2 separate regions of the Homo sapiens genome follow, and region 2 is linked to region 1. The links come from fine-mapping of genetic effects on gene expression. A gene starts in region 1. The other region holds a variant in brackets. All regions are shown on one strand. Distances are between the middles of the regions. Region 1 holds the start of KBTBD11-AS1 (KBTBD11 antisense RNA 1). Region 2 has its middle 200 kb from the start of MIR7160.

Region 1 (9,416 bases):
TCAGACTTGCCCCACCACCATCGGATGAGCCAGGTCCTTCAATCTTGCTCTCTAATCCCTCTCACACGTGCAGACACATGCACACACATGCACACACATGTACCCAGTTGGTTGTGTTTCCCTGGAGAACCCTGACCAGCACGAGGGCCTACAGCAGTTCTCCTGTGCCTGCCCAGGGCTGTGCACTGTGGGCTGGGGGTGGGTCTCTCATTGCTTTGGAACACCAGCCTTTGCATTAGAGGAAGGACTGGAACCCAGGGAGGCACTTTCACACCTGACTTCCATGATGACTTCCTGGAGCCCAAGTCTTGATGCCACAACAGGATGAGACTTGGGGATCGCCGTAGCCTTTTTTATGTGGAAGGGACATGACCTTAGTGGAAAGAGCAGATTCTATTTTCCAAACATGCCGCATGGATGAACCCTGCTCGGCACGCCCATCCCGCCCAGTGAGATTCCCCTGCGCTCACAGTTGAGACCCCGTTCCCTCCCCTTCTACGTGGCAGGCCAGGGACTGAGGGGGAAGCAACACAACATGACCTCCCCGCCTCGTGAGAAAGGTGACCCGGTTCCACCTGGCTGTTTTCTCAGGTCACAGTCCGTGGTGACCCTGACTCAACACACAGGGAGTCCACTGCATCAAGGCTGCCACGCTGCAGCGAGTACATGGACGGTCACACAGTGACAGGGGAAGGTCCCCGAGGGGCCCCTGCTGCGCCAGCCCCCAGTGTGTGAATCCTCCTGGCGCAAGCCTCAGGCAGCAAGTCAGTGGCCTCCATGGTTCCAGCCCTTGGCCTTCAAGCTCCGCATCTGGTGCTGAGTGGCACCAAGGTGAGCTGTGCCCAGCGAGACTGCAGACTTTTAAGCAAAATGAATGCTATTGCTACGAATACAGGAACAGAAAACCAAACACCACGTTCTCACTTATAAGTGGGAGCTGAATGATGAGAACACATGGACTCAGGGAGGGGAACAACACACACTGGGGCCTGTAGAGGGCGGCGGAGGGAGAGCATCAGGATAAAGAGCTAATGCCTGCTGGGCTTAATACCTAGGTGATGGGTTGACAGGTGCAACAAACCACCATGGCACACGTTTACCTATGTAACAAAACTGCACCTCCCGCACATGTACCCTGCAACTTAAAATATAAATAAATGCTATTGTTTTAAGCCACTAAGCTGTGCATGGCTTATTGAACCACCATGATATTGGAACAAGGGTCGTGATACGAATATTCAGAACTGTGAACTGCATCTTGCAGGAATGGGAAGCTATGAAAGGCCCACTATTGTAAGAATTTTAAAAAATAATTGCTCTGAGCTGGGAGTGGTGGTTCATGCCTGTAATCCCAGCACTTTGGGAGGCCAAGGCAGGAAGATCACTTGAGGCCAGGAGTTCGAGACCAGCCTGGCTAACATGCTGAGACCCCATCTCTACTAAAACTACAAAAAAAAATAAATAAATAAGTTGGGTGTGCTGGAGGGCGCCTGTAATCCCAGCTACTCGAGAGACTGAGACATGAGAATTGCTTGAACCCTGGAGGCGGAGGTTGCCGTGAGCTGACATGGTGCCACTGGATTCCAGCCTGGATGACAGAGCCAGACTCCATCTCAAAATATAATAATAATAATAAAAATCATTGTTCTGACTACTGCAGGAGGACCTGTTCAAAGAGAGGATGTGCAGAGCCTCTCCAGAGACTACTGCAGGAGTCCAAGCATGAGATGGAGGTGGCCAGGACAAAGATGGTACACTTCATAGAACCACACCCATATGTATGTCCCCACGACTCTACACCTTTCTAATAAAACAGTAACAATACCAGCTAACATCGGCACCGTGGTTTTTCATTTACAAAACATTCTATGTGCATCTTCCTATTTAATGATTTCACTTTAGGACTCGGGAAGTCTCCATGCTACAAAATTAATCCATATGAAACTCAGTCAAGCTCTAAAGCAGGGGTCTCCAATCTTTTGGCTTCCGTGGGCCACACTGGAAGAATTGTCTTGGGTCACACATAAAATAGACTAACACTAATGATAGATGATGAGCTTAAAAAAAAAAAAAACTCATAATGTTTTAAGAAAGTTTACAAATCTGTGTTGGGCCTCATTCAAAGCTGTCCTGGGCCACATGTGGCTCGTGGCCCATGGGTTGGAGGACCTTGCTCTAAAGTGTGAAGCTCCATCAATTTAACTCAGCCATAAAATCGGCTGACATTACACTTTTACTACACCCTGCTCCAGCGCCCCTCACTGACCTCTCCGTGCTCTAGTCCTCACCACAGGGCCTTTGCACACAATGTTCCCGCAAACTGTCCCCTCCTGGGCTCCTGAGCCACCCCTCTCATCCCTTAGTTCTCGGCCTAACATTCCTCTGTTACGTGCATTCAAGGGAATGTATTCCTCTCCTTCAACGCACTCATCTCCGTGTGTTATTACCTAAGAATTAACGTAATTATATGCTGAATGCCTTTCACTGTATTAACGTCTCAGCTGCAGATAGCAGAGAACTAGGCTGACTTTACTTACAACTGTATTCCCAGCACCTAGGACTGAGCCTGACCCACAGCAGGGTGGGGGGTGGGGGAGCAGGGGAACTCCACAAATATTCAGAAGAGAAGGAAATTCATGCTAATCCTTCAAACAAAATGCACATAAGACATGCAACGGTTTCTATTTCCAAGACAACATTTATTTCAAAATCATTTCTAGCAGGAACCTGGCTGTTGGCAAAAAGTAAACTAGATGCTTTAATTTATTCTTAAAGTTTTTGCTCATTGTTAAATACTTTGCAAACATGTGCTGGATACCAACACTATACTTTTAGCTTAATTACAATGATTTCAAGAGGAAAAAAAAAACAAACTCAAGACCACAATTGACACGATGAGCCCTTGACCTCCGGAGAAGGGCAGATATCGCCCTGAGTCACCAAGGGAACACATGCTGAATGACAGGCTGATTTGTGATCAGGAAACCCGCTGTTCTCCGGGCCCTTCTCAAGCCCACTCAGACACCAGTCCTCCTTGATCACAGCCTTGGATGCAAGGAGGCTTAGAGGCACTGCAGCTGCCTAAGTGATTCCAGATTTGCAGGAGAGCTATTATTACTGAGCAATCTGTGCTCTTGGTATTTAGAAAACAACTGAAACATGTGCCCAGATGGAGGCGTCCACAGCACGGAGAGTCTCTCTGTATCAGCACAGGGACAAAGACGGGACCTGCTGGGCTCCCACTGCCAAGGTTGCTACCTGTACCGGAACATATGGAAACCCCATTGAAGCGGGTTTGTATTGGAGTTTACAAATGATGCGATAAGCTCCAAACCACCTTTCCGGATTCTTCCATCCACCCAGAGCAAGGTGCTCTGAGGTTCAAGTTAGGCCCAGACATCAGTCAACACAGAGTCCTGCTCCCTGGGAATTTCTTTAGTCTCAGAGCCACAACATTTAAGCTTTCTCCCCTCCTCCCAAGCCCAATGCTGGCTTAAATACAGTCACGAATGGTTCAGATGCAGACAGGTTCTGAGAAATGATAGTTAGATAACTTCATCACTGTGCAAACATCACACAGGGCACCTACACACCTAGGCGGTGCAGCCTGCTACACACCTGTGCTCCACTGCACAGACTCCTGCTCCAGACTGCACACCTGTGCAGCGTGCACAATACCGCAGGCAATTGTAACACAATGGTGTTTGTGTATCTACACATTTCTAAGCATGAAAAAGACACAGGGAAAACAGTTTTATAATCTTACAGGACCACCGTCAACTTGGCGGTCTGTAATTGATCCGAACGTGGCTGTGCTACACATCACTATAATGTAAGCAACATCTTTTAACTGATTTTATTATGTGCTGTCCAATGCTATGGCCAGCAATGCCTGTGCAACTGACATGGAAAGTTCAAAGGCTTTACCTCATTACAATTTTTACTTAGTTATGCCCTGATGGGAGCATTGCAATGCCAGTTACCATAAATCTGCACACACGAGGTTGTTGCTGGAGCAAATCTGAAGGCAATGGAACGCTCCCTTCCGTGATGTCAGGAATGGGGAGGATTATTCTAATAATAGCACACTATTAGCTCAGGATAAAAGGCTGAAGGGTTCCATTGACATCCATTAAGGGGTCCTAATTGGAGCCTGAGTAACTGCTCCTTAGTGGGAAATGGAGGCGGGAACCGCGGGGAATCGGGCGAACTTCTCACTCAGGGCCTGAGGGGATGGCTGGAACTTTAAAATCTGACGGCGGCGCCTTTCGTGGGCTGAGTAGAATAAAGCTCGCTGCACTGATTTGTTCCTTTTCTTTTCCTTAGAATAGACACTGGAGTGGGTGGAGGGGGAAACGTGGTTTTGTAGGACTCTAAAGAGGTGGAGGGACTTTGGTTCACCCTCTTTTCATGCTCCAGAATGAGCCCCGCCTGAGAGGAGGGACCCCTGCGGAATCCCGCCCAGACCGCCCGGGGGTCTCCCCAGCACATGGGGCGGGGGCTGCAAGGGGCGCCCGGCAGGACTCGGGAGCCGCGGCGCGGTGGGGCGGGTGGGTCGCGGTGCTCGGGGCTCGCGGGGGTCAGCAGCCAGGACACCCCCGCACCCCGGGCGCAGCGGCGGAGGACCAAGGGCCGCGCTCCCCTCCCCAGGGCCCCGAGTCCAGGAGAGACCCCCGTTCGCTCCGGACAGCCGATCCCCGCGACCGCCGAGAGCCAAGCGGAGCAACCCCGGGAGGAGCCCCCGCCCTGGCCCCGCGCGCTTGGCTTCGGCTTCTGCTCCTGCTTCCGTGCCGGCTGGGGCGGCGGGACCCTCGGCGGGGGCGGTGACTGCGGGCGCGGCGCGGGCGGCTCATTGTCTTCCGGCCGGGGTTGCCGCGTCCCGGGGGAGGGCCTGTGGAGACCCCGCGAGGAGGCCCCCACGCCCCCCACGCGGCCTCCCGGAGGCGGAGCGGAGACCACCCACCGCCGCCCACCCCGCCGCGGGCAGCGCTGCCCCCTCCTCTCCCGGTCCCCCCTCCCCTCCCCTCCGCTCCGCTCCCCTCCCTCCCCTGCCGGCCTCCCCTCCCCGCCTCTCCCCTGCCGGCCTCCCCTTTTCTCCCCTCCCGCCTACTGCCGCTCTCGCCGACCACCTCCCACCCGCCGCCCCCTCCGACCCGCGCCTCGGGCTGCTTCCCGCTCCGCCCGCCAGGCCCCGCCGCTGCCTCCCCGGGGTCCGCCCTACCTCGCCGCGGCTCCTCTTCAGCCGCCGGGCCCGGGACGCGCAGCCAGGCGGGTGGGCTCCGGCGCATGCGCGCGGCCGCTTCCCGGCACCTGTGGGAGCCGCGGCCCGGCCTCTCCGAGCACCTGCGAGCGGGAGCTGCTCCTCCGACCCGCAGCGGGGCGTGGGCGGCAGAGGGGGCGGTGGACAGGCCTCTCCGCCTCTCCAGGCCGCGCGGAGCCAGCGCTCCGGCTCCAGGCTGCGAGGGGCGCGCGCGGGGCGCGGGGAGGGGGGCGGGCGCGTGCACACGGGGCGTTTTCGGGCGCGCGCCCCCTGGCTGGGTCTGCGGAGGGGCTGTGGGTTCCCCGGGGCTTCCCTGCCCCGCGCCTGCCCGCCGGGCGCTTCTCCCCCTCCAGGACCGCGGCCCACGTCGCCACTCGAGCCCGAGCCCGAGCCCGCGCCCACGCGCGGGGGCCGCTTCCTGCGAGGAGGCGGGGACAGGTGTCCGCGGGCGCAAACAGCGGAGTTTCGTGCGCCTATTTTTTGGTAAAAGTAGAGGCGATGCGTTGTTGACATATTTAGTGGTTAAAAACTTATTGCCAAATTCTCAACAGATTCCAGAATTTTTTAAAGTTCACAACACGAGAGTGGACGAAATGTCGGAGCTTTTGCTCATATCCAGAAATGTGGCCTCTGCCTCCCACTCGGGCCCTGCGGTGCAGACGGGTTCAGGGCGGCGAGGACTGAGCCAGGAGCGCCGAGAGTTCCAGCTGCTCCCAGGCTGGGTTCTAATTAACGCTGGACCCCTGCTGGTAAATGCTATTTTTAATGGCTTTGTGCAAATTAATGACGATGAGATTTCCATAAGTACCGAGAGCCAGAGCCTTTACTTTCTCTTTTTGTGTTCTTTTTGCTTGTGACAGTCTTTGCCAGTTCCATGCTGTATACACATAATGAGCCGTTACAACTCCAGCACCAAAGCTAACGCCCCGGGAACATCTTTAAAACCTTTTTCACTCTGTTGCCAAGAAGAGTAGTACCTGCTGTCAGTACTTGAATTACAGGAGGCTGAAACTCAGCGAGCTACTGGGATTTTTTGAAAATTGAAAACTTCCGTTAACTATAGCAGAAACAGACCCTTTTGGTGGAAGCTAAAATAATTCCCATGCTGCTCCGTTTTTATTTTGTTCAGTTTACTCCAAAAATGTTCCAAACTCTACTGTGATCTTCTTAGTGCATCTCTACTTCCTTTCGGCTGCAGAATAATACTTCTTTTTCTCTTTTGTTTTTTTTTAGAGATGGAGTCTCACTCTGTCGCCCAGGCTGGAATGCAGTGGTGCAATCTCGGCTCACTGCGATCTCTGCGTCCTGGGTTCAAGCAATTCTCCTGCCTCAGCCTCCCAAGTAGCTGTGACTACAGGCATGCACCACCACACCCAGCTAAATTTTGTATTTTTAGTAGAGACAGGGTTTCACTGTACATTGGCCAGGCTGGTCTCGATCTCCTGACCTCAAGTGATCCACCTGTCTTGGCCTCCCAAAGTGCTGGGATTACAGGCATGAGCCACCGCGCCTGGCCTAACTACCCCCATTCTTTTCCAGAGAAACGTGAACAGGCCAAACAAAGCCTCACCTGGCTATCCCGCCACCCTGGGGTTGGGCCTCCAAAGGCCCGGGAGGTCACCTAAGACACGGTGTTCTGAACATGCAAGCCCGACAGCATCTTCTCTACCATTCTGCCAGAGTCCAGAGACCTGGGAATAGGTCATACCCCCCACTGCATTTTACAAGCTTGGCATACATTAGGTTCTCAATAAATACTGAATTAATGAAAAAATTGCTGAAGTAACTGAAAACATCCATCCAAACCCCACACCATCTGGTAGATAAGTAGTCTGTGGGGAGTCCCATATTTTTCTTACCTTAGATATTTATTTGGAAATGGACTGTAGGCCCAATATGGTCAATGAAACTTGCAGAGGAACATTTCATGCCTTTAATTAGTTCTTCATAACTGCAGGGACCTCTAGAGTTCCTGAAATTGAACTGGGTTGTAATACTGTCAAGAAAAAGGAGGACCTATCTTAAATCTATTTCAAGGGTAATACTATTTTACTATGTAAATTTTCCCCTGGTCAGGGACAGCCTGATCATGCATGGTAGACTCGAAGCATGCAAATATTTCAACATGCAAAACCGCCCTAAAAATATAACCGAAGCTTATGGAGTTGTCCAGGGTACAGTGGTTTACTGGCCCCTGAATGCGGGACTCCATCAAACTGGGTTCCAGGCTGGGAGGTCTCTGAACCCAATTTCTAGACAGCCTGCTTTGGAGTTCAACTGATGGGACCTTAGACACCAGCCTTACCCTCTGCAAGTCTTGTGATTTGGAGCCAGATACTTGGCCTCTCTGTGCTCCAGGGAGACACCACTGCACCTACCTGAGAGGACTGAAGGAGAGGATCTGTGCAACTCACTCAGGATACTGGATCTTAAGCCAATGGGTGGACTTACATTCGTCACCTCTGATTCTGTCTCCTCCTGCGCGGTGACTTAGCAAACACTTCTTCCTCTCCAGCTCTGCTTCTTACTCTCCAGCTCTGCTGCCCTGTTCCAGTGCTGACGCCAGACAACAGATAATTTCCCAAATGCTTGTATTAGCCCTTAGGAGTTCATGTGTTCCTCCCCCAGCCAATAAAGCTGTTAAATCCCAATAACTGTCAGGAATGGAGCCAATTGCTATAAAGTACTTCCAGCTTCTTGGCATGAAGAAATAATTAGAATATATGTGTTGGCTTTGAAACAACACTCACTGGTTCATTAAAAAATTCTGTGCATATTGTACAAAAGTAGTCTTGGCCTTGGCACTCCCTTAGGTGAACCTTACCCGGCCCTGGCACTCCCTTAGGTGAACCTTACCCGGCCCTGGCACTCCCTTAGGTGAACCTTACCTACTTCAGTGCTTCCTCAGCTCTGATGAACTGTGTGCAATTGCGTTTTTGTCGCAAGCTGCTGCTTAAATACTGTGAAGCTCTTTCCTTATGTCAGTCTCTCCACCTATGTTACCAGCCAGCGCCTGAGACCCTCATATTAAGGAAACAGTGTGTTCCTAAGTCCTCTTTGATATTGTCCACTATTGACTATCGATAGCAAACATGCATTGGCCATGTGCTAAGCATGTCATTCCCCAAATTTTATTTTTTTGAGACAGTTTCGCTCTTGTTGCCCAGTGTGAAGTGGAATGGTGTGATCTCAGCGTACTACAACCTCCACCTTCCGGGTTCACGTGATTCTCCTGCCTCAGACTCCCGAGTAGTTGGGATTACAGGTGTGTGCCACCACGCCCGGCTAATTTTTTTTATTTTTAATAGAGATGGGGTTTCACCACGTTGGTCAGTCTGGTCTCAAACTCCTGACCTGAGGTGATCCACCCACCTCGGCCTCCCAAAGCGCTGGGATTACAGGCGTGAGCCACCGTGCCTGGACCCCAAATTTTAAATTACAGACAGTCCCAGGTTTAAGATGATACCCTAATTGTCCTGATTCGAATAGGGAAACGGAGGCCATGCTTTTTAGTTTTGTACCCCTGGGCCCAGCAATGTGAGGGCATGAAGCCAAGCTCGGTAATTGTTGACTAAATGAAGGAGTGAGGCCTGTTGAGCCCAAATGCCCATTGCTCATCATCCCTGACAGGCTCTCCCAGGGGCTGCAGGGGCCTGGGCACGTGGTTCCCTCAAGCAGATTGCAGGTTACCCACAGGCAACACGCTCTGCCAGTGAATTAACGCTGCTGTCTCCACATGGCCAGTACGTTTATTAGGGGGAATCCTAGTAACCATTTTTCAGAAAAATAAAGGAAATAAGATGGCAACCATTACTTTAAAATAGTTTCAAGGCATATATTAATAATGTTAGAGCAAGTTAGCTGCAATTTAAAATATTTTGAGGGTCGGGGGCAGTGACTCACATCTGTGGTCCCAGCACTTTGGGAGGCTGAGGCGGGCAGATTGCCTGAGCCTAGGAGTTGGAGACCAGCCTGGGCAACATGGAGAAACCCTGTCTCCACAAAAATACAAAACATTAGCCGGGCGTGCTGGCGTGCACCTGTAGTCCCAGCTACTCAGGAGGCCGAAGTGAGAGGATTGCTTGAGCCTGGGAGGTTGAGGCTGCTCTGAGCCATGATTGCGCCACTGCACTCCAGCTGGAGCAACACAGTGAGA
Region 2 (9,416 bases), 300 kb before region 1:
TAAATACCTAGAATTCTACACACACACCCCACCTTTGAGGTTTGTTTAAATACAGATGGCTGCTGTAGACAGAGAAACCAGCTCAGAAGAGTGTGGTTGTGCTATGATCTCTGAAAATTACTGCACTGTCTGTTAACAGTGCATAATCAGGTTCACCATTATAAAAAGGGGACTTAGTTCAGTCTTACTTTATGCAGGGAATTATACTGGGGCTTTAAATTATTAATATATTAAGGTATATACAAAGATAATATATACAAGAGATGTTGAATTACCAACCGAAGACCACATTGGGGCAAGGTACAATGGGTATAAATCAGAAAAGAGCAGGGACTGTACCTCTTTCTTCCACATTCCTCCTACGTCTGTTTTATGTCCTATTATACAGCTGGAAAAAGCTGATGAATTAAACTGGACTTGCAGCCCCAGAGCGTGACGTCACATCCAGGAGGCCATCAGTAGCAGGCCTTTGTTGAGCTGCTGAAAAGGAATTCTCCTGTAACTGGAAGCAAGTAGGAGAAATTTCCCGTTCCTTCCCACGCTACAGCATCACATATGGGAAAAGCTAACATCAAGAATGGCCTGGGATGTGCAGAATCTTCCAGTTCTTCATCCTCAGTGCCTGACTGTCGACAGTCCCACAGATTCACAGCCATGGGTGCAGGGGAAGCTTACTCTTTTTTGAACATAGGTTAGAAAAGCAGGAGCACATTTCTAAACAACTGGCTCCTTTCCAAAATGCATTAAGGCCAGAAGAATGCAAAGTATGAAGTCAAGAAAAACTCTAGCCCAACTGAGATCATCTGTGACATTCTTTAGAAGAGTTAGAGGGACATCCATGTTAAATGGAACAAAAACATTAAGTAAGAGATCCATCAACCCCACTTCTGGGTGTTAAAGATTTGAAATCAATGGGTCCAAGAGATATCTGCACTCCTAAGTTCATTGCAGCATGATTCACAATAGCCAAGTTATGAAATCAGTCTAAGTGTCCATTAAGGGACAAATGGATAAGGAAACTGTAGTTTATACACACAATGGAGTATTATCCAGCCCCTAAAAAGAAAAGAAATTCTGTTATTTGTGACAACATGGATGGAATTGTAGAACATTATGCTGAGTGAAATAAGCCAAACGCAGAAAGACAAGCACAGCATATCCTCACTTACTTGTGGAATTAAAACAATTGAACTCGGAGCAGCAGAGAGGGGAATGGTGGCTGCAGAGGCTGACGCCTGGGAAAACACAGACATGACAGTCAAAGACACAAAGCTTCAGTGAGATCAGAGGAAAAGTCTGATATTTTTTAGATCCATAGCACAGCATGCTGAATACATTCTAAATTGTCTATAAAGCGCATAACACCACTTTTTACCCATAAGTACATACAACTATAATTCGTCAATATACAACACATATTTGTTTTTAAATATTAAACACTAAGAGCTCTTTCCAACCTTTTCCTTGTAATCACCAAAAGTCAGGCTGAATTGCTTCATGGTTGTAAGGCACTCTCACATTTACTATTGCATTGGGAAATTAAAGAGCACAGAAGGGGCTCCTTCATTTAATTTCTCAACAGATTTGTCGTAGTAGGGAGCAACGTCTATAAAGATGGTACACTATCAGAAATGTCTTCAGAACGTCCTGAACAAACGTGACCTTCAGAAGTCATTGATGAAAGTATGCTGCCCTAAATCCTTAATCCAGAAGCTGGGTGGGAGTGGAGCATCTCCTTGGGATCAGGGGTGTCCGGGTGGGAGAAGAGCACCTCCTTGGGATTTTCTCTGCCTCATTTCTCAAGGGGGCACAAATGGAAGTTTCACAATTGGAGCCACTGTTAAATAAAGAAATGGAGGAGAAGGAAGTGGAGGAGGAGAGGGAAATGGGGAAGAAGAATTGACTGAAGACAGAATAGTTGGAATACCCTTGAGAAAGCAATATTTATTTCCACAGGAGTTATTTTAGTCAAAACTATGTTTGAACCAATTGCTCATTGAGTAGGTATCAGACGTTGTGTCAAACACTTTCCTGGGCCAGGCGCAGTGACTCACACCTGTAATCTCAGCACTTTGGGAGGCCCAGGCGGGTGGATCACTTAAGGCCAGGAGTTGAGGATCCACTTAGGCAACATAGTAAGACCCCATCTCTACAAAACATATGAAAATTAGCAGGACTTGGAGGTGTGCACCTGTGGTCCCTGTTTGTTGGGAGGCTGAGGTGAGAGGATTCCTTGAGCCTAGGAGTTCGAGGCTGCAGTGAGCAATGATTGTGCCACTACATTCCAGCCTGAGTGACAGAATGAGACCCTGTCTCCAAAAAATAAAAAACACTTTCCTATATCTTGTCTCACTAAATCCAACATACCAAACAATTCTCCAGAGGACACCAGCTGGGTGTCCTGTAATTCAACTTCACTCTGACCCTGTCTACCTAGAGAGAGGATCAGATCCCACGGGTTAAAGGACCCTGTCCCATAAGACGGTCCCCACGTCAGATACCAGCCACCACGCTTCTGACTGAATGGCCGCAAATCGGGCTCCCAGCACCCCCTTCTTGAGGTCAATTCATTTGCTAGAGCAGCTCACAGAACTCAGCAAAACACTATACTTACATTTGATGGTTTGTTAATAAGGTTATAATAAAGGACACAGAAGAACAGGCAGATGAAGCGATGGAGAGAGCGGGGTCTTGAAGGTCCCAAGCACAGGAGCATCTGGCCCCATGGAGTTGGGGTGCTCCACCCTCCTGCCATGCAGCTGTGCTCAGCAGCTTCTTAAGTGTTTTTATTTGGTTTTCTCTGTTTCTTTATTTTTTGAGACAGGGACTTTCTGTGTCACCCAGGATGTAGTGTAGTGACACGATCATAACTCACTGCAGTGCCAACCTCTTGGGCTCGAGTGACCCTCCCACTTTAGCTTCTGGAACTATAGGTGTGCAATAGGTGGCTTTTTTTTTTTAAAGTTTTTGTAGAACTGGGGTCTCACTATGTTGCCCCGGCTGGTCTTGAACTCCTAGACTCAAGCGATCCTCTTGCCTCAACCTCCCAAAGTGCTGGTATTAAAGGCATGAGCCACCACATCCAGCTAATTTTTGTTTGTTTGTTTGTTTGTAGAGATGGGGTCTCTCCATATTGCCCAGGCTTGAAAACTCCAAACTTCTAATCACGGCTTGGTCTTTCTGGTGACCAGGCCCATCTAGGAGCCACCAAGAGTTGCTTCATGAGAACAAAAGACGTTCCTCTCACTCAGAAAATTCCGAGGGTTGTAGAGCTCTGTGCCAGGAACTGGGGGGCAGAGATCAAGTATAGATTTCTTATTGTATCACAGCAGCCCTCTGGGGTCCCTTCTATAAGGGCACTAATCCCACGACCTAATCACCCCCAAGTCCCTCTCCTAGTACCATCACTTTGGTGATTAAGATTCAACATGGAATCTGGGGGTGACACAAACCCTCAGACCATAGCAAGTTGTCGCCATCTTATTAATGTATTTTAAATGTTAACATTTTGTCACGCTCCAAACATTTTGCTCTGTTGGCTCCCTGATGGGAAAGCCCATGCTTGGGGACCCTCCCCCAGCTCTTCCTGTGCCCATGTCCCGCTGGGGACCCTGTCACATCCACACTGCCAAGACTCTGGGGGGCCGAGTCTTCCAAGAGCTGGGCAGAACAAAAGCACATTGGACTCAAGAATGGGGAGTCAGTCCCTGGGCCCGGCACTCACAGCGCCCTCTGTCCTCGTCTCCTTTACTGCTCAGGTCATCCAGCTGTCCCCAGAGCGCATGCCCTCTTCGAGGACAAGACCCCCACTATAGACCCTAGGCCAAACTGAACAAGTGCTTTTCATATGGATACAGATTTATGTTACTTACTCTAAAATTGTTTAGAGCTCATGATTTGTTATAGTTTTTTTTTTTTTTTTTGTCTTTTTTGAGGTGGAGTCTTGCTCTGTTGCCCAGGCTGGAGTGCAGATGCCTGATCTCGGCTCACTGCAACCTCCACCTCCTGGGTTCAAGCAATTCTCCTGCCTCAGTCTCCCAAGTAGCTGGGACTACAGGCACCGGCCACCATGACTGGTTAATTTTTGTATTTTTTTTTAGTAGAGACAGGGTCTTACTATGTTGCCCAGGTGGATCCTGAACTCCTGGCCTCAAGTAATCCACCTGCCTGGGCCTCCCAAAGTGCTGAGATTATAGGCGTGAGCCACCATGCCCGGCCTTAAGTATTTTTTACAAGTACAATGACAATAATGAAATTTTACCTGGGATTTCACCTGAGAATTCTCCAAAAGTTTACTGCCTCTTTTCCCTTATTTCTTAGAGTGGAGATGACACCCTCACGTTATGTTATACAGCGGTGAGTAAGATGTGCTTCATTGTTAGGATGGAGTGGTATTCAGTACATATCATTTATTTTCTTATTTTTGTTTTTTGAGACAGGGTCTCGCTCTGTTGCCCAGGCTGGAGTGTAGTGGCACCATCACACCTCACTGAAGCCTCAACCTCGTGGGCTCAAGCTATCCTTCCTCCTCAGCCTCCTGAGTAGCTGAGACTACGGGCGAGTGCCACCACGCCCAGCTAATTTTTGTATTTTTTGTAAAGGTGAAGTGTGTTTTTTTTTTTTTTTTTTTTGACAGAGTGTTGCTTGTCACCAAGGCTGGAGTGCAGGGGTGCAATCTTGGCTCACCACAACCTTCGCCTCCTGGGTTCAAACGATTATCATGCCTCAGCTTCCCGAGTAGCTGGGATTACAGGTGTGTGCCACCACACGCAGCTGGTTTTTGTACTTTTAGTAGAGATGGGGTTTAACCATGTTGGTCAGGCTGGTCAAAACTCCTGATCTCAGGTGATCCATCCGCCTCGGCCTCCCACAGTGCTGGGGTTACACCCATGAGCCAACACGCCCGGCCAGACAGGCCATTTCCATGATGCCCAGGCTGGCCTTGAACCCCTGGGTTCGAGCAAACTGCCAGCCTCAGTCTCCCAATGTCCTAGGATTACAGGCGTGAACCACTGCTCCCAGCCAGTATACGTAATTTAAATGTTTTACAATTAATTATTTAAATTAAATGATTTAAACAAAATTATTCGAATGATGTAAACACCCTAGAAATAAATCCGGGTATTAAGAAGGAAGAATCACGTTCCAAGGGAAAAGGAGCTAATATTAATCCAAAACATTTGGTGCACTATACATAGTTATTTAGTATATTTACTAGATGTAGTGTGTATAAATAGTCACCAGATAGGTAGGTAAAGACAGAAAGGGAGATTGAATTAACA[T/C]TACTTTTAGAAGTCAACCGGAGCTACTCAGGAAAGGCCCAGCACTAACATAAAGGGATGAATCGGCCAGGCTGGCCAGTAGGGGATAGCGAAGACTGTGGCAAAACCAAGTGTATGCCTAGCCAACATCATGTTCAGGTTACTTCTCAAACCAGCCAGCACCTAAACCACACGCCTCTGTGGGCTGACAATACATATTTGGGCCAGATGAGGCCTGCAGACGGTCAGCCCCTAAAGAGATGTCTGGTGAGGAAGCTATTTTGAGCTGAGACTGGACAGCTGAGAAGTGTTAGGGACTCATTAACACTTCCCAACCTAAACAACAGTTTAATTCAAGCTGGACAGAGCTGAGACATGGGCAGGCCTGAAGCAGAGTGAATGAGAGATGGAGAAAAGGCTGTTTATAACAATTAAGGTAGAACCCACAGAAGCATTTATAAGCTTTGGAAATAAGGGTTTTAAAACTATTGCCCTGGTAGGTACTTTTTACATCATGTAAGTAAACCCTAAAATGGCCAACATATCTAGGTTTAAAGAGCAATATTAAAAAAGCTTATTTTCTCCATTTTCCCTGCAAGAGATAATCCTAAACATCCATTGTATCAAGCTAGTCAGTCTCTACCTTGAACGTGGTTGCAACTGTAGGTGGCACAGATAACGACGTTTGGAAGAATTAAGTGATTTTGTATTAAAAAGCCCTTATTTCTGAATATATATGGGATATTTTGGAAAGAGGTATACACATGGATTTCTTTTTAATTGGAGATTAGATGTTTAATCATACTCTCAAAATGATCCATGTAGACCAAAATGTGAAGTTGTGCTGGTCTATAGCGGTGTTTTCCAGCTCTGGATCTCCCTGCAACAGCAGCCTCATGACCCGCGAGTTAATCAGAAACAGAACGAGCGGATCCACCCGCCCAGCGAATCAGCCTCTGTGGGGCGAGGCCGGGGGCTGAGGACAGGCTCTCCAGGTGAGTGACCCAACGCGGCTAAAATATATGACCTGCGGTCCTGGCTGCACATCCTCAGAGACTTCTCAGTGAAGTAATTTGGTACAGATTTTAGGAAAAGATATTTATGTTGTCTTTACTAACCAGAACCAGTTTAAATACAGTCTTTTAGAAGGAGAGGAAACAGAATCCATCCTATTTTTCCAGAGGTAACTTTTGTGTGTGTGTGACTCACATCTGTTTTCTGTTTCCCATTCGGAAAGTGTCTCCAGGGTAGTGGCCTGCACCCTATGAGCATGTCCACTAACCAAATGAACGAGAGGTATTCAATCACTTAGGTTAGTTAAAGTCTGTGTGATTCCCCAAGGTTTAGCTCACGGGTGAAAGGGCACATGCTTTCAATGAGATCTAAAGTTTTTGGCAAGTTGATCGTAAGCCCGAGAGACCCCATGGTTCAAACGCAAGCACATGTGTAGGGCACACACATACACATAGCTGTGGAAGCTTCGTGGATGCACTTTCTCCATCTGCATTTTCCGGAATTTCCCTGCATCACATAGTGAAGGGGAAACCAGATGTGCAGAAAAGGTTCTCCTCGGGAGGCGAAGGCAAACAGAGCTGTCCTGTTTGCTCCCCACTGAAGCCACTTACACATAACTCTGTAGTCCATAGTCAACAAGATGACTCCAAGGGGAAGGAGGGAGGAGGAAAGGAAAAAGTCAAGGCAGAGGAGATTAGCTTGGCAACACACAGCCGAGCATCCATCCATATTCTGTATCATATTATCCCGCCTGCTACACAAGTACCTCACAGCAGATAGCACTGACTGCCTGACTACACACGCCAGGGGCATGTTGCTGGATAGCTGTGCTTTTTCTCCATGTCTGCTTACATTTAATCTTCAAATCACTTATACACAGATTTATATACACAAATGCACATATACACATATACATAAACACACCTGTGCAGGTATACACACAAGGACGTATACATGATAAAGTCTAGTTGAACTACATTAATCATGGGTACATGCATGTACATACATGCACACATAAGTACATGCTAGAATCCACTTATGCTGATTACATTAATCATGGGTGTATTAGTCCGTTTCCACACTGCTATAAAAAATGCCCGAGACTCGGTAATTTATAAAGGAAGATGGTTTATTTGACTCATAGTTCCACATGGCTGGGGAGGCCTCAGGAAACTTACAATCATGGCAGAAGGTGAAAGGGAAGCAAGGCACCTTACTCACAGGGTGGCAGGAGAGAGAAATGCAAGCAGGGGAAATGCTAGACGCTCATGAAATCACCAGATCTCATGAGACTCACTCATCATCACAAGAACAGCATGGCGGAAACCACCTCCACGATCCAATCACCTCCCTCCCTCGGCATGTGGGGATTGCAATTCAAGATGAAATTTGAGTGGGCCACAGAGCTAAACCATATCAATGGGTATATGTGAGTACATAGACACACACACACACACACACACATGCACAGACATGCTAGAGTCCAGCTACACTGATTACATTAATACATTAATCACGGGTGTATGCGTGTGTGTGTATATATACATATATATATATATGTATATATACACACACTATGACATGCTAGAGTCCAGTTACACTGATTACATTGACCATGGGTGTACGCGTGTACATATATACATACACAAGGACATGCTAGAGTCTAATTACACTGATTATATTAACCATGGTGTATGCCTGTACATATATATACACACACAAGGACAAACTAGAATCTAGTTACACTGATTATATTAACCATGGTGTATTCCTGTACATAGATACAAACACAAGGACATGCTAGAATCTAGTTACACTGATTATATTAAGCATGGTGTATTCCTGTACATAGATACACACACAAGGACATGCTAGGGTCCAGTGACACTGATCACATTAATCAAGCTTCAACGCACCCTCTAAAGTCAGTATTACCCACACCAAATGTTAAATGTCATATTTCAACAATATAACAAAATTCTCAGACAAAATGTATCCAAACCTCAAAACCATGCTCTTTCCACCCAAAGTACTACCTCCTCTGTGGATACCCTTGATATACTTTATATTCTTTTTTTTTTTTTTCCATTTCAGGGTTAATTATACTTGTTAGGCACATTTTTACTTTTTGTTACACATAAAAATGTTTGTAAATAGATAAAAATTTAAATTTCAGAAAGCTACTCCTGCCTGGACGAGGCTATCTGAAGCACACATGGATCGTTGGCGGGTTCCAAAGGGCAGTATTTGGGGCAAATGGAATAAACTCTCTAAGCTAGTTCAGCCTGAGCTGGTGGTGTGGAGTAAGACTTTGGGAAATGTGAGGGACGTCCCCTCCAGGGAGCAGGATAGACAGATGTAGGGAGCAGAGGGAGGACATCACAGCAGATCCAGAGGCTGATGTTGTCTTGTAATGAAATAAAACTGGAGACGGACTAGGGGCTTCAAATCAACGAAGAGGAGCCTGAGATGAAGACTCATGGTATGAAATTTGGGAGAAAACAGCAAAAGGCCAGTTGAGGACGCATTCCACAACCACGTGCCCAGTGGCATGGAAGAGCAGATGTCTGAGGTCATGGCATTCTCCCTCTGCACCACCCCAAAGGCCTGCTGCCACAACTGATGCATTCTCTCTCCACCCCCGCAGACATCACCAGTACATTCCTGACAAAAAGCAATATATTTTTACTCTGCAGATGACAAATGTCTCCACTGCCATTTTCTCGCTGTTTTCACGCGTACAGAGACCCACAAGCCCGCCAAATGAGGACGGCTGGAAAGATTTTCCTCTGCAGATTAGAAATTAAGTCTTGGGTTTCTTTTGTAATAGGCAGGCACAGCCACATTACCATTGTATTTGGCTTTTGCGGGAGGTTAAAGTTATTGACAATGAACTGTTTAAACATGTGTGCAAGCTGCTTTATGGAGCGCCTTTAACGAGAAAGGATGGAGAGGGAGCCTGTGCGAAAGCCGCCCTTACAGATTAGGAGAATCAGAAAACCTACGTCACCCCGTGGCATTCACTGCAAGTGAGGCCCAGCGCGATGGTAGGGAGAGAGTTTTCCATTTTAAAGTTAGTTAAGGAAGAAGAATCATGACTTTTTCGGCAAATCTGAATTTTTAGAGAGGTAAGCCTCCTCA

The links.
Region 2: its variant is fine-mapped to the expression of KBTBD11-AS1 in minor salivary gland (GTEx, PIP above 0.99).

The regions. Positions count from the first base shown.
Region 1 is chr8:1,969,741-1,979,156 of GRCh38, reverse strand. It overlaps KBTBD11-AS1 (KBTBD11 antisense RNA 1), which reads left to right and starts at 5,812. Exons shown (of 3, transcript NR_136275.1): 1 at 5,812-6,009; 2 at 6,494-6,617; 3 at 6,800-7,978. It overlaps KBTBD11 (kelch repeat and BTB domain containing 11), which reads right to left and starts at 5,480. Exons shown (of 2, transcript NM_014867.3): 1 at 5,222-5,480. It overlaps KBTBD11-OT1 (KBTBD11 overlapping transcript 1), which reads right to left and starts at 7,760. Exons shown (of 3, transcript NR_126346.1): 1 at 7,639-7,760; 2 at 7,120-7,232; 3 at 2,713-3,258. RefSeq lists enhancers at 52-610, 611-1,170.
Region 2 is chr8:2,272,431-2,281,846 of GRCh38, reverse strand. No RefSeq gene overlaps it. Among named protein-coding and RNA genes, the nearest start is that of MIR7160, 200 kb to the right of the region's middle. RefSeq lists a silencer at 2,916-3,093. The variant T/C (reference allele first, on the strand shown) is at 5,283.